Homo sapiens: one gene and its partners. The protein of the gene in region 1 purifies or fractionates together with the protein of each later gene. This does not show direct contact. Each region holds a gene or a part of one and is shown in the gene's direction. Other genes may lie near its edges.

Evidence for each region. Proteins that work in one complex are often made in the same cells at the same time.
Region 2: the proteins of TCF15 (region 1) and AS3MT purify together in Homo sapiens (affinity purification with mass spectrometry; one large-scale study listed by BioGRID and IntAct). This does not show direct contact.
Region 3: the proteins of TCF15 (region 1) and SPATA33 purify together in Homo sapiens (affinity purification with mass spectrometry; one large-scale study listed by BioGRID and IntAct). This does not show direct contact.
Region 4: the proteins of TCF15 (region 1) and FAT3 purify together in Homo sapiens (affinity purification with mass spectrometry; one large-scale study listed by BioGRID and IntAct). This does not show direct contact.

The regions. Positions count from the first base shown.
Region 1 is NC_000020.11:607,510-611,481, reverse strand, and holds the start of TCF15 (transcription factor 15), read left to right. Parts: upstream 1-1,172; 5' UTR 1,173-1,244; coding exon 1,245-1,769; intron 1,770-3,972. UniProt on the Homo sapiens protein: Early transcription factor that plays a key role in somitogenesis, paraxial mesoderm development and regulation of stem cell pluripotency. Essential for the mesenchymal to epithelial transition associated with somite formation.
Region 2 is NC_000010.11:102,893,470-102,896,969, forward strand, and holds part of AS3MT (arsenite methyltransferase), read left to right. Parts: intron 1-3,500. UniProt on the Homo sapiens protein: Catalyzes the transfer of a methyl group from AdoMet to trivalent arsenicals producing methylated and dimethylated arsenicals.
Region 3 is NC_000016.10:89,664,336-89,667,835, forward strand, and holds part of SPATA33 (spermatogenesis-associated protein 33), read left to right. Parts: intron 1-3,500. UniProt on the Homo sapiens protein: Plays an important role in sperm motility and male fertility. Required for sperm midpiece flexibility and for the localization of sperm calcineurin to the mitochondria. Promotes mitophagy as well as acts as an autophagy mediator in male germline cells.
Region 4 is NC_000011.10:92,346,818-92,350,317, forward strand, and holds part of FAT3 (protocadherin Fat 3 isoform 1 precursor), read left to right. Parts: intron 1-3,500.

The DNA.
Region 1 (3,972 bases):
GTGCCTGGAGAGAGCTGAGCAGCAGGCACGAGTGAGATCGAGACCCCGGCAACCACCTTTGGCTCAGCAATTCTCTGAAGAGGACACGTCAGGCTGAACAATCTAAGGTTTCTAGAAGGCAAGCAGGCATTGAGGAAAGATAGCCCGTGTGTGTGTGATGGGATGGTGGTGGTAGGATTCCAAGAGGTAGTGAAACCGGACAGGCTGGAGCTAGCGCCGCCACTCCCACCTGTACGACTGAAGGCCGGAGCTCTCTGACCTGTAACTCAGGGCTGCCATCCTGCAGCCTCAGCTGGGCGCAATAGAGTATATAGCACCGAGTCTGGTACACAGTAGTTCCTTAACCAAAACGTCAGTTCCGTGAGGGTGAAGAATTTATTTTGTTAATGGCTGTATCCTCAGACCTAAAACCATGTCTGACACATAGTAGGGACCCAACGAATATTTGTTGAAAAAACGAACGAACTACTGGTGTTTGTGTATTGTGGTTTTGTTTTGCTTTTTTTTTTCTTCTTCTTTTTAAGTTTGTCTTCAGGGACAAGACACTGTCGAATCCTCATTTGGAAAGATTATAGCTTTTCTCCAAGTGTTCTCCACGGACACCACCACTATCACCAATGGCTTGTTACAAAATGTAGGTTCCTGGGCCCGTTCCAGAACTGCTCAATCAGAATGGGAGCAATTTGGGACTCTGTAATAGCAAAAGCCCCTTCCCCAGTTCTTACGCACGTGAAAGCTGCAGAACTACAGGATTAGAATTGGAGGGCAGGCAGACACTAGCTGTTTCTCTGCAATCTGAACGTTCCGAACGAGGAAACTGAGGCCCAGAGAGGAGAAAGGGATCTGCCCGCGTCTCCCAGGTGGTCCAGGCTGGAGACAAAAAGTTCGGATCTGGGCCCACCCCGGCCGACCCTCCCAGACCTCCAGCATCTGCCGGGCTAGCCAGCCGGGAACGGGGGCCTTCGGGGTGGGCCGCCGGCTCCCGGGCCGCTTTCAACCTGGGGGACGGAGGCGGTGGGAGCGTCGCCATTGGCCAGGGCGCGGCGGACGCCTCCCCATTGGCCGGGCGGACGCCTCCCCATTGGCCGGGCGGAGCCCTCCGCCCCCGGCCGGGGCGGCCTTGCCATTGGCCCCTCCCTCGCCTATAAGGCGGGGGCCGGCGGGGCCGTGGGAGCGCGCGGGAGCGCACGGCGGGGCGCGGCCGACGCTGGGACGCGGCGCACGGAGGGACGCGGCCGGCGCCCATGGCGTTCGCGCTGCTGCGGCCCGTCGGCGCGCACGTGCTGTACCCGGACGTGCGGCTGCTGAGCGAGGACGAGGAGAACCGCAGCGAGAGCGACGCGTCGGACCAGTCGTTCGGCTGCTGCGAGGGCCCGGAGGCGGCGCGGCGCGGCCCGGGCCCCGGGGGCGGGCGGCGGGCGGGCGGCGGCGGCGGCGCGGGCCCCGTGGTGGTGGTGCGACAGCGGCAGGCGGCCAACGCGCGGGAGCGGGACCGCACTCAGAGCGTGAACACGGCCTTCACGGCGCTGCGCACGCTCATCCCCACCGAGCCGGTGGACCGCAAGCTGTCCAAGATCGAGACCGTGCGCCTGGCGTCCAGCTACATCGCGCACCTGGCCAACGTGCTGCTGCTGGGCGACTCGGCCGACGACGGGCAGCCGTGCTTCCGTGCCGCGGGCAGTGCCAAGGGCGCCGTCCCCGCCGCCGCCGACGGCGGCCGCCAGCCGCGCTCCATCTGCACCTTCTGCCTCAGCAACCAGCGCAAGGGGGTGAGTGTGCTGCGTCCCTCGCTGCGGCCGCCAGGTCGGGGTAGGCGGGGGGCAGCGCCTCTGCGGGAACCGGAGAGGTGCAGGGGTCCCCAACGAGGCCAGGGGGAAGCGACGTGGAATTCGTGCTGGGTGCGGCACCCCAAGCCCAGAACCACTGACTTAATGCCCAGGCCCCCAAACAGAAGGATGCGGGAAAACCCAGAGTTCGGGTCTGATTTAACTGCTCAGTGTGGGATATCCCCTCCAACGAAAGGTGTGCTGGAACTTCCTTCCTGCTGGGAAGACGGCATGAGGACTGAGTAACAAAGACCCATCTTTTATGGAGTCTTCCTCTGTGCCGATGCGCTCCACATCCACTTTTTTGCCTTCACAAGAATCCCTTCAGGCAGGTAGTTTTTCTGCCCATTTTATCCTGATGAGGATCTGAGCATCAGAGATGGGATCACCTGCCCACATTTACTCAGCTGGGAAGCCGGGGCGCTGGCCCTGGGCTTGCCCGGTGTGTGTTGCCCCCACCTTGAAATAATTGTCCCCTGTCCTAAGATCTAACCCAAGAGCAGGAGACTGAGAAGAAAGGAGGCCACAAACCGCCAACCGAGAGCCTGAGGTACCCAGCGGATGAGCAGTAGGAGTGAAGAAGGGGCCCTCTGAGAGTCCCCAGCCCCCAAAAGGACGTGGTGTTGGGAGAGGGCACTCTTGGGTCAGCTGGAGGGAGCTGGTGTGCAGCTCCTGCAATGTGTCCTGGGCAAGAAAGTGGATCAGGCTGGTAGGGGTGGGCGGGGGCTGTGTGGCAGCAGAGGTGGCCTCTTGGCTGAAACCTTGCCCAGGCTCCAAGGAACCTGCTTCATCCCCCGACCGTGTGCCTTTCTGGCCTGGGCTTTTCCTACAGTAAAGAAGCCTGTCTAACAACTTGTATTCCAGCAGCTACCATTTACATCCGGGGAAACTGAGGCTGAGAGAGTACTGACTTTTGGTGGCCAAGTGGAAGGGCATGGGGAATTGGAGTTAGGCCCCTGACTCCCTGCTGTTTGGTTCTCACAGCTGCCGTTGGTCCCTTGCTCCACCCTGTTCTGCGGAGGCCTCTGCATCTTGGCCTGAGACCACCCTCTGTCTGGCTCATCAGATATCCAGCCTGGTTGCTCAACACTTGGCTGCCTCAGTTGCCCTGAATCGTCGGTCTTCTTAGCCTCAGGCTTGTGCCCTCTCCAGGGTCCCTGCTGCTCCCAGCTGTGGGCCCCTGTCAGTGCCCCAGGCTGGGCTGAGAAGCCAGGAGTGGGCCTTTAAGGCTTCCTGGGATGGGAGGGCCTGAAGGGGCTCTCAGGGATACTCCCTGACTGCCTTTCACCCATTCATTCCAGTTAGCAACCCTTAGCTACCCAACAGCTGCCTTCTGTTGGCTCTGAGAACCCCAGAGAAGCAGGTTGTAGGTCCCCACCCTTCCACCAGTCAGGACCTGACAGTACAGCCCCAGGGTCAGGGCAGGGAGATGAAGATGAGGATGCTGTGGTCTGATGGTGGGGGAGGGGAAGCACAAAGGGATTCTCAGAGCCCAGAGAAAGCCTCCAACCCAGGGTGAGTGCTGACAGGGTTTCTGTGTCTCATTTCTGAAGGATGCTTTAGAACAGGGGCAGGCCGATGAAGGGGTAGGAAAGGGTGTTCTAGGATTGGGGCATACAGCAAGAGCTCAGGCCTAGAGAAGGAAGAGGGAAGAGGTTAAAAGTGGCAGGAGTGCAGAGGGGGAGCACAATGGCCAATAACAGCAGTGACAGCAGCCTTCATGAGCACTGATCTGTGCTAAGCGCTCTTTATGATTTATCATTAAAATCCTGCAACAGCCAGGAATGAGGCGCTGTGGTTATCCCCACTTGCTTAGAGGTGCTGCCAGTGGCGCAGAGACACACAGTCAGTGATGGAACCAGGATTCAAACTCAGGCCTGCCTGGTTGGGACGTGGGATAGGTTACAGAGGGAAGTCCCTGTAACTGTCATGTGTCCACCCCCATAGCAAGCAGGCTGGGGGACTTCTCTGCAGGTCTCAGGCCTGTCCCACAGCTCACAGGGGCCTCCCCTGGGCCTGGCCGCTTCCCTGGGATCTGTCTATGGGACCAAGAACTCAGCCAAATTTGGCTGTAGAAACCATGCTCTCAACCCCACGGTCTCCTCTGGGAATAGGCGAGAGGGGCAATCCTGGCCAGCTATGGCCC
Region 2 (3,500 bases), on another chromosome or scaffold:
CACCATGCCTGGCTAATTTTTTTTTCTTTTTTTTTTTTTTTTCCGAGATGGAGTCTTGCTCTGTTGCCCAGGCTGGAGTGCAGTGGTGCGACCTCGGCTCACTGCAACCTCTGCCTCCCAAGTTCAAGCGATTCTTCTGCCTCAGCCTCCAGAGTAGATGGGACTACAGGTGCGTGCCACCATGCCTGGCTAATTTTTATTTTATTTTTTTAGTAGAGATGGGGTTTCATCATATTGGCCAGGCTGGTCTCGAACTCCTTACCTCATGATCCACCCACCTTGGCCTCCCAAAGTGCTGGGATTATAGGCATGAGCCACTGTGCCCAGCCCTAATTCGTATTTTTAGTAGAGACAGGGTTTCACCATGTTGGTCAGGCTGGTCTCAAACTGCTGATCTTAGGTGACCAACCTGTCTCGGCCTCCCAAAGTGCTGAGATTACAGGGGTGAACCACCATGCCTGGTCTGGCCTAGAACTTTCAAATTCGCTATGTGTCTTTTGGCTCTAAGCCCCTTGACCATAGGGGTCCCACCAAGGCACAAGATGGACCCAGGGAAGGCAGCTGTGCCACCCCAGCAACACAGTGAGATAAAATAAAAGTTTGGTGACCATTGATGTTGCCTCTGACAAATCTAGGCCAGAATGCGGAGAAAGTAAATCAAAAATAAAATTCTAGGCCGGGCGCGGTGGCTCACACCTGTAATCCCAGCACTTTGGGAGGCCGAGGCGGGTGGATCACAAGGTCAGGAGTTCGAGACCAGCCTGGCCAACATAGTGAAACCCCGTCTCTACTAAAAATAAAAAATCAGCCAGGCGTGGGGGCAGGCACCTGTAGTCCCAGCTACTTGGGAGGCTGAGGCAGGAGAATTCCTTGAACCTGGGAGGTGGAGGTTGCAGTGAGCCGAGATCATGCCACTGCACTCTAACCTGGGCGACAGAGCGAGACTCCATCTCAAAAAATAAAAAAAAATAAAAAAATAAAAAAATAAAATAAAATTATAAACCCTCAACCATCTGAACGGACCCCTCCTGTCGGGCAAAGGCATTGCAAAGTTATCCTAAAAAACTAGTTCAGGTCACGAAGGGAAGGAGAAGTTTGGACATGCCTCATTATTCCCTCCTCCCTTTTGGAATTCAGACACTGCTGACCAGCATTACCATTAAAACAGATCTTAAGACTGATAGAACAGACTCTTTAAATCTGGTAAGAAACATTTACAATCTATTCTCTCTGTAGCCTGCTGCCTAGAGGCTTCATCTGCATGATAAAACCTTGGTCTCCACAATCTCTTATCATAACCTAGACACTCCCTTCTATTGATCCCAGGTCTTTGGATTATAACTCAACCAATTGCCAATCACAAAATCTTTGAATCTGCCTGTGACCTGGAAATCCCCACTTCCAGTTGTCCCACGTTTCTGGTCTGAACCAATGTACATATTATATGTATTGATTGATGTCTTATGTCTCTCTAAAATGTATAAAACCAAGTTATAGGGTGACCACTTTGGGCACATGTTTGCAGATCTCCTGAGGGCTGTGTCACAGGCCATTGGTCACTTATTTGGCTCAGAATAAATCTTTTTAAGTATTTTAGAGTTTGACCCTTTTTGTTGACAATGTTTAACATCCTACAGTTATGACACCCTAATTTGAATTTATACAGCTTAACTTCAATAACATACTAAAATTCTGCTCCTTTAAAGCTTGTTCTCAACTATTTTAGTTCTTTTTTTTTTTTTTCCATTGACAGAGTTTCACTCTATCACCCAGGCTGGAGTGCAGTGGCACGATCTTGGCTCACTGCAGCCTCTGCCTCCTGGGTTCAAGTGATTCTCCTGCCCCAGCCTCACAAGTAGCTGGGATTACAGGTGCGCCAGCCACCATGCCTGGCTAATTTTTTGTATTTTTAGTAGAGGCGGGGTCTCATCATGTTGGCCAGCCTGGTCTCGAACTCCTGACATCAGATGATCCACCAGCCTCGGCCTCCCAAAGTGCTGGGATTACAGGTGTGAACTACCACGCCCGGGTCTTTCTAGTTCTTGATATCACAAAATTATGTCTTTATTCATTTTGTGCCCCCAAAACGTAAACTAATAATTATTTTAAATGCATTGGTCTCTTAAATCATGTGGAAAACAAAAAGTAGAGTTACAAACCATTGTTACAATAATACTAGCTTTGCCGGGTGTGGTGGCTTACGCCACCAGGTGATCCACCCACCTAGGTTGCCCAGCCTGGGCAACAAGAGCACAACTCCATCTCAAAAAAACAAAAACAAATAAACAAAAAACCCCAATAATACCAGCTTTTTTTTTTTTTTGAGACAGAGCTTCGCTCTTGTTGCCCAGGCTAGAGTGCAATGGTGCGGTCTTGGCTCACCGCAACCTCCGCCTCCTGGGTTCAAGCGGTTCTCCTGCCTCAGCTTCCCAAGTAGCTGGGATTACAGGTGCGCACCATCACAGCCGGCTAATTTTTGTATTTTTAGTAGAGACGGGGTTTTACCATGTTGGTCAAGCTGGTCTCAAACTCCTGACCTCAGGTAATCCACCTGCCTTGGCCTCCCAAAGTGCTGGGATTACAGGCATGAGCCACCGTGCCCGGCCAATCCCAGCACTTTGGGAGGCTGAGGCTGGCAGACCACTTGAGGTCAGGAGGTCAAGACCAGCCTGGCCAACATGCTGAAACCGTGTCTGTACTAAAAATACAAAAATTAGCTGGGCACGGTGGCAAATGCCTATAATCCCAGTTACTTGGGGGGCTGAGGCAGGAGGATCGTTTTGAGCCCGGGATGTGGAGGCTGTAGTGAGCCGTGATCACAACACTGTACCCCAGCCTGGGCGACAGAGCAAGACCCTGCCTCAAAAAAAAAAAAAAAAAAGCACAAAGCTTTTTGAGAAATCACTTTCAAAAATGGTACATTTGTAGTTGGGGAAGGTTAATCGAACCTAAAATATAAGAATCCTGGACCCCAAAACCTGGAGCCAGTATTACCAGCATGAATCTAACCCAAGCTCAGTATACAAGCCACCTGTAGAGCTAAAGAGTGATTTACTAGGCCGGGCACGGTGGCTTACGCCTGTAATCCCAGCACTTTGGGAGCCGAGGCGGGTGGATCACGAGGTCAGGAGTTCAAGACCAGCCTGGCCAAGATGGTGAAACCCCGTCTCTACTAAAAATACAAAAAAAATTAGCCGGGCGTGGTGGCATGCGCCTGTAATCCCAGCTACTCCAGAGGCTGAGGCAGAGAATTGCTTAAACCTGGAGGGGCGGAGGTTGCAGTGAGCCGAGATCGCGCCACTGCACTCCAGCTGGGGTGACAGAGTGAGACTCCATCTCAAAAAAAAAAAAAAAGAGTGATTTACTTTCTTTGCTTTATTAAATTCTTCAGCACTCTGCTATTCTGACTCTTCTGTTGTTCGAAGAAGGTGATACTTTGGAAAGTAGACAGATTTGGCTTTTGAGTATTCAATCCATTAAACATTTCAAAAATATGTCAC
Region 3 (3,500 bases), on another chromosome or scaffold:
AACAAGGTGGCAGGACTCAAGACAGCCCACACGATCCCTGCCCCTGGGAAACAGCCATGTGTAACCCTCCCCTCGAGTGTGGGTGGAATGAGGAAGAGGGAGGTGTGTCTCTCCTGCGATTAGCTCACTCATCCATTGAGTTTGACGTCATCAAAATGCGAGATGATCCTGGATGGGCCCGACCTGATCAGGGAAGCCAGACAGTAAAAGTGTCAGAGGCTCTTTAGGGCCCGACCTGATCAGGGAAGCCAGACAGTAAAAGTGTCAGAGGCTCTTTAGGGCCCGACCTGATCAGGGAAGCCAGACAGTAAAAGTGTCAGAGGCTCTTTAGGGCCCGACCTGATCAGGGAAGCCAGACAGTAAAAGTGTCAGAGGCTTTTTAGGGCAGCGAGAAAACGGGAACTTCATTCCTTGAACCGGGAATAAATTCTGCCTCCAACCAGAATGGGCTTAGAAGAGGGTCCTCCAGCTCCTCATGAGAATGCAGTGCAGCCGGCCCCTGGAATTCAGCCTGCGTCCCAGCCACGCTGCACCTGCACCCCTGACGACGAATGCAGTAAGATGATAAGTGGATGTGCTGGTTTCAGCCCTGAAGTTGGTGGTGATTTGTTGTGCAGCAATAGAAGTACACACAATATGTACCAAGAACCTTGAGAAGAGTCACATTTATTCTTTCTGTTTTGTTTCTGAGATGGTCTCACCCAGGCTGGAGTGCAGTGGCACCATCTTGGCTCATTGCACTCTTGACGTTCTGGGCTCAAACGATTCTCCCACCTCAGCTCCCTGAGTAGCTGGGGCCACAGTGCACGCCACCACCCCCAGCTATTTTTTGTAGTTTTTGTAGAGATGCGGTTTTGTCATGTTGCCCAGGCTGGTCTCGAACTCCAGAGGCCAAGCAATCTGCCTGCTTCAGCCTCCCAAGGTGCTGGGATTACAGGCGTGAGCCACCGCACCTGGCCCAAGATTAATATTTCTTTTTTTTTTTGAGATGGAGTCTTGCTCTGTCGCCACCCAGGCTGGACTGCAATGGTGCATCTCTGCTCACTGCAAGCTCCGCCTCCCGGGTTCATGCCATTCTCCTGTCTCAGCCTCCCGCATAGCTGGGACTACAGGTGCCTGCCACCACGCCTGGCTAATTTTTTGTATTTTTTTTTTTTTTAAGTAGAGATGGGGTTTCACTATGTTAACCAGAATGGTCTTAATTTCCTGACCTCGTGATCCGCCCGCATCGGCCTCCCAAGGTGCTGGGATTACAGGCGTGAGCCACTGCGTCTGGCCTAATATTTCTAAATGAAGAAACTATACTTTGAGGAAGATGAAATAAGTCTTGTTTTAGACTAGAAAATTTCAATAGTGTAAATACGTTAACTTCTGTAAAATCAGTCAACACCAAGTCAAAACACAAAAGATCTTTTGGGAATATGAGCAGATTATTCAAAGGTTCATCTAAAGAATAAAAATGAGGCCAAGTGTAGTGATTCACGCCTGTAATCCCGGCACTTTGGAGGCCGAGGCAGGTGGATCACTTGAGGTCAGGAGTTCAAGACCAGCCTGGCCAACATGATGAAAGCCCATCTCTACTAAAAATACAAAAATTAGCTAGGCGTGGTGATGGGTGCCTGTAGTGCCAGCTACTTGGGGAGGCTGGGGCAGGAGAATCACTTGAACCTGGGAGGTAGAGGTTGTAGTGAGCCAAAATTGTGCCACTGCACTCCAGCCTGGGCGACAAGAGTGAGAATCCATCTCAAAATAAATAAATGAATAAAAATGAAAGCAGTAGGAAACATCTGGAAAACCAGAGGCATGAGGGGGTCGGGCCCTCTGATACTCAAGTAGGTTAGAGTAAAAAAAAGCCAGATATGGTGATGTGGGAATATATGGTCCCATAGGTGGGATCTGTGGTTCCAGCTACTCAGTGAGGTCCGAGGATCACTTGGGCCTGGGAGGTTAGGACTGTAGTTTGCTATGATCACATCCACGAATAGCCACTGCGCTCCTTCCTGGGCTACAGAGTGAGACCCTTCTCTAAAAATGGAAGAAAATGGCCGGCACAGTGGTTCATGGCTGCTGTAATCCCAGCGCTTTGGGAGGGTGAAGTGGGAGAATAACTTGAGCCTGAGAGTTCGAGACCAGCCTGGGCAACATGGCAAAACCGTGTCTCTACAAAAAATTTCAAAATTAGGTGGGTGTGGTGGTGTGTAGGGTCCAGCCCCACAGGGTCGGTGGGTTTTCTCCCCATGTGCGGAGATGAGAGAGCGTAGAAATAAAGACACAAGGCAAAGAGATAAAAGACAGCTGGGCCCGGGGGACCACTACCACCAAGCCGTGGAGACCGGTAGTGGCCCCAAATGCCAGGCTGCACTGATATTTATTGGATACAAGACAAAGGGGCAGGGTTAGGAGTGTGAGCCATCTCCAATGATAGGTGAGGTCATGTGGGTCATGTGTCCACTGGACAGGGGGCCCTTCCCTGCCTGGCAGCCAAGGCAGAGAGAGAGGAGACAGAGAGACAGCTTACGCCGTTATTTCAGCATATCAGAGACTTTTAGTACTTTCACTAATTTGCTACTGCTATCTAAAAGGCAGAGCCAGGTGTACAGGATGGAACATGAAGGTGGACTAGGAGCGTGACCACTGAAGCACAGCATCACAGGGAGACGATTAGGCCTCTGGATAACTGCGGGCAAGCCTGACTGATGTCAGGCCCTCCACAAGAGGTGGAGGAGCAGAGTTTTCTCTAAACTCCCCTGGGGAAAGGGAGACTCCCTTTCCTGGTCTGCTAAGTAGTGGGTGTTTTTCCTTGACACTGACGCTACTGCTAGACCATGGTCTGCTTGGCAACGGGCGTCCTACCAGACGCTGGCGTTACCACTAGACCAAGGAGCCCTCTGGTGGCCCTGTCTGGGCATAACAAAAGGCTCACACTCTTGTCTTCTGGTCACTTCTCACCATGTCCCCCCAGCTCCTGTCTCTGTATGACCTGGTTTTTCCTAGGTTATGATTGTAGAGCGAGGATTATTATAATATTGGAATAAAGAGTAATTGCTACAAATTAATTAATGATATTCATATATAATCATGTCTGTGATCTAGATCTAGTATAACTATTCTTATTTTATATATTTTATTACACTGGAACAGCTCGTGCCCTCGGTCTCTTGCCTCGGCACCTGGGTGACTTGCCGCCCACAGTGGTGCGTGCTGGTGGTCCCAGCTACTTGGAAGGCTGAAGTGGGAGGATCATTTGAGCCCAGGAAGTTGAGGCTTCAGTGAGCCATGATCATGCCACAGCATTTCAGCCTGGGCCACAGACCTTCAAGATCCTGTCTCAAAAAGAAAAAGGGATATCGCTCAGTGCTTAGTGCAGCTGTGGGTCATTCGGCAGCTGACACAGATGAGGCTATGTAACGCAGCACTGCAGGCAGAGGGGGAGGCCAAGGCCTGAATACCCCGTCTGACTAGCCTTAGGCAGGCGACTTGGCCTCTCTGCCTCCCCCATC
Region 4 (3,500 bases), on another chromosome or scaffold:
CTTTGCTTTTAGTAAAGAAAGGACATTCTTTCCTTTACCTTTGATGGGTGTTTTTTTCTACTGGAAAATAAAACGTAGAGTAGGTTGTAAATTTTACTCCCTGTCTTGTGATTCCCAGATTTTGTCTTCTCTAAAATCTGCCTTTATTAATGATAATAGCTAACAATTATATACAATGTGCCATGAAGTGTTTTAAGTATTTTCCATTTATTAACTCAAATCCTATTCGGTAGGCATTATTGTTCTCATTTTATAGAAGAATAAACTGAGGTGCAGAGAGGTTCAATAGCTTGCCTGGGGTTGTAAAGCTAGTAAATGGCATAGATAGGATTCAAATGCAGGCAGTCAAGTGCCAAGGTGCATGTTCTGTAACCATTGCATGCTCTGCCTTTGTGTTGGCATTGGCTCTGGCACTGCATACACCAGAGCAGAGACTGATCTTCCATTTGCAGTTTGAACACGGGTCACCTTCCTCAAGGACTCCTGTCAAGGGGACTCTATATTGACTTTGTTCTTTGCTTTACAGCCTAACATAGCAAATTTCTTGAGTACCCTCCCGATTTGGCTAACAAAATCCCCTCAAAATAGAAAAGATAGGAAGAGAGGGAATGAAAATGAAATATATTTTTAAAATACCTTTGGTAGTGTTCAGAAGTCTCACCAATTTAAGCAGACCAGATTAATGTTGGCAGAAAACAGCTTTATCAGGTTACCAAAGCAAGCATAGGTACCCTACAGAGCCAAGGCTGTCCCAGAGAGGTAGTCTCTGTGATTGCTGTTCCCTGCCCCCAAGGTCTCTGGTATTTATTCATCCATGGAAAGAAAAATCTGCATGCCCTTCTGAGTCCCACAGTAAGATCCATCCTAACAGAGCAGAAGGGCAGGATGGGGAGGCACACCAGGAATGCCTCTGAAAAATAAATGTCTCAAAGATTGATGGCTTGATGATCTCTTTGGAGATTATATCAAAAATTATTGATTATGTTAGTAAGTCGTAGAAAATAGGCTCTGAGGTTGGGAACTAAGTGCTTTCTTTAAAATAATCTAGAAGCAGTAGAATAAATCAATGTGCAGAGCATCTAAAATACTGTATCATATTGGCTTCACAAATAGCTTGGCTTCAATGTGGAAAGGGCAATATTATTTTTAAAAAAAACTTCAACAGTTGTCTTGGCATGCTAAAAAGAAAAGAAGACAAAATTCAATTCTATTATTTGCTTTGCAAAATTTTACAACATTCCTAGCTTCTAGCATTCATTTATTTCCTAATCAGTGGGAAAACTGCAAGGCTTTTTAAAATAATTTGTGCCAGATAGGGCTTTTTTTTTTTCCTTTGCCACAATAAAGATACAAAAGCCTTAAAAGATATTTTGTTTTCAACAACTGAATTTGACAAACTTAGTCCTGCTCAGTTTTTTGGTGGTAGGTCTGAATTTCAGTATGTGATAATACTACTCCATTTATGCTTGTTTTGAAATATTTTCTATTTGCATTTAAGACCACCGATTCCGGTTTTTAAGAAAACAATTCCAGCAATGTATCTTGCTGAAAGAAAAACTCACTATGCAAAAGCACCAATTTTTGAATAGTTAAATTGAATGATACATTTTCATATTATGATAGCATTCTTTGCCTTGAAAGATTCACAGAAAGATTTGTAAAAAGTAACTATCCCCTTAGGGCACTTTAATGTTTATTTATAAACAGTTAACTACTTAGAGGAAGAAATAACACCAGGGAGAGTAATATGGTGTCAGAAAAGGAAGATGACTCCAAAATAATGATAAACCACAGCTCTAAAATTTTAATGTAACTTAATGAAAACTAATTCAATTGAAGCGTGTTTCAGTTTGGTATTAGCTCTGAACCTGGGAAACTTGAGTCCTGGCATTAGGGGAATCTCTTCATTTTATGGACCCTGGTTTCTTCATCTGTAAACTCAGGAGATTGGAACAGATGATCTTTAAGGCTCCTTTGAACCTGTATAATTTCTTGATTCAGTTTCCTGAAGTAAGATGTGCTTTTTGTTGGGGAATAGGAAACGGAGCATATTAAAGGCATCTGGGCCTCTGGTTACATTAGTACTTAGGGTTCTGTTCAACAAACCAGTGTTGTTTGCTTCCTGTGTGGTGGGTGCTGTACTGGATGCTGGGAATAGAGTGATGTACTTCCCATCAGGTTTCCTTAAGTAGAAGTTCAAAGTGTGAATGAGGGGGCAGACTCAGAAAAGTTCAGTTGAACTGTATTTTTCATGGGGGAAGTTTTCCTCTCTGATGACCATGGAGTCTAGACTCCTTGGGCTAAGGATCGGCAAAATTACTGTTACAGGAAGTCTTCTCAGCACAGGATAGTGAGTGGGAAATAAGGCAGAAACTTTATTTGTATTTCTCTGGAGCATTCTGGGAGTGATCCCAGTATTTCACCTTGAGAGAGTGTAACCTAACCTTCACATTCCCTTACGAGAGACTCGCTTACTTTACCGTGTTCACATGTCCACAGTGAGCCTAAAAATGTCTCCACTGCTTTGGAGCCTTTTGAGATGATGAAATAGAGACTCCTGAGGCATACAAAATACTATTAAAGCTTCTGCTAGTGTACTTCTGTGATCACTACAGAGAGGTTCTTTTGCTCCCATATTTCAGTTGACTGTGCTCTACAAAGTAGACACCCCAATCACACTGTGGGCTTCGCCACTCTGCTAGGTAGGACATTTGAACCTACTGCATCCAGAAAACCCCAAATGTATCATTTTCTTAATAAAGTTTCCTTTGAAATGACCAGCAGCCCAGTGATGTCTTTCTAGGAACTTACTGAGCAGGGTCACCAGCGGCCATCTGACTTGGTCCCTGCCCTAGTTACCAGAGCTGCTGTCCACAGGCTGCCTGTTCCACTTACTTAGCATATGCAATGTCTCTAAAGAACTGCATGTGAAATTAACTTCCTTTATAGACGCTTACTCCCTTTTTCAGCTTTTCATTTTTGCTGTCTATTAATGCCTGTAAAGTCCCTAAATTAAACTTGACTTTTTCTATCTGTAACTCCATGTTTTCTACGGGATACTTCAGCAAATGATAGCAGCAAGATATCTTACATTCCCAGGCAGAACCAGCATTTGCATGCTCAGGGTTTCACTTCAGGAGAGTCTCCTGTAAGGTGGAGCTGAAAAAAAAAAAAAAAGAAAAGCCTTGTGGGGTATGGAGAGAGCCTGAGCTCTAATCTAGAGTCTGCTAGACTCTATCAATGACTATTAAATTTAGACAGTTTCCACAGTTTCATGACTATGTGGGTTAAAAGGTAAAAACTTTTTCCTATTTTAGCCAGTAAAATTAATCAAGGAGAGGGGAGAAAGGAGGTATTCAACAAGAAAAAGTTAAGTCTATTTAGACTTAACTAATAAAGTCGAGATAGGAAAATGAGGTTTTATATTATCATTAACAAAAAGGTTATAATAATATGTGCCTTGCTAACCTTGGATATGAAAGGGTTTTATAAACCATACA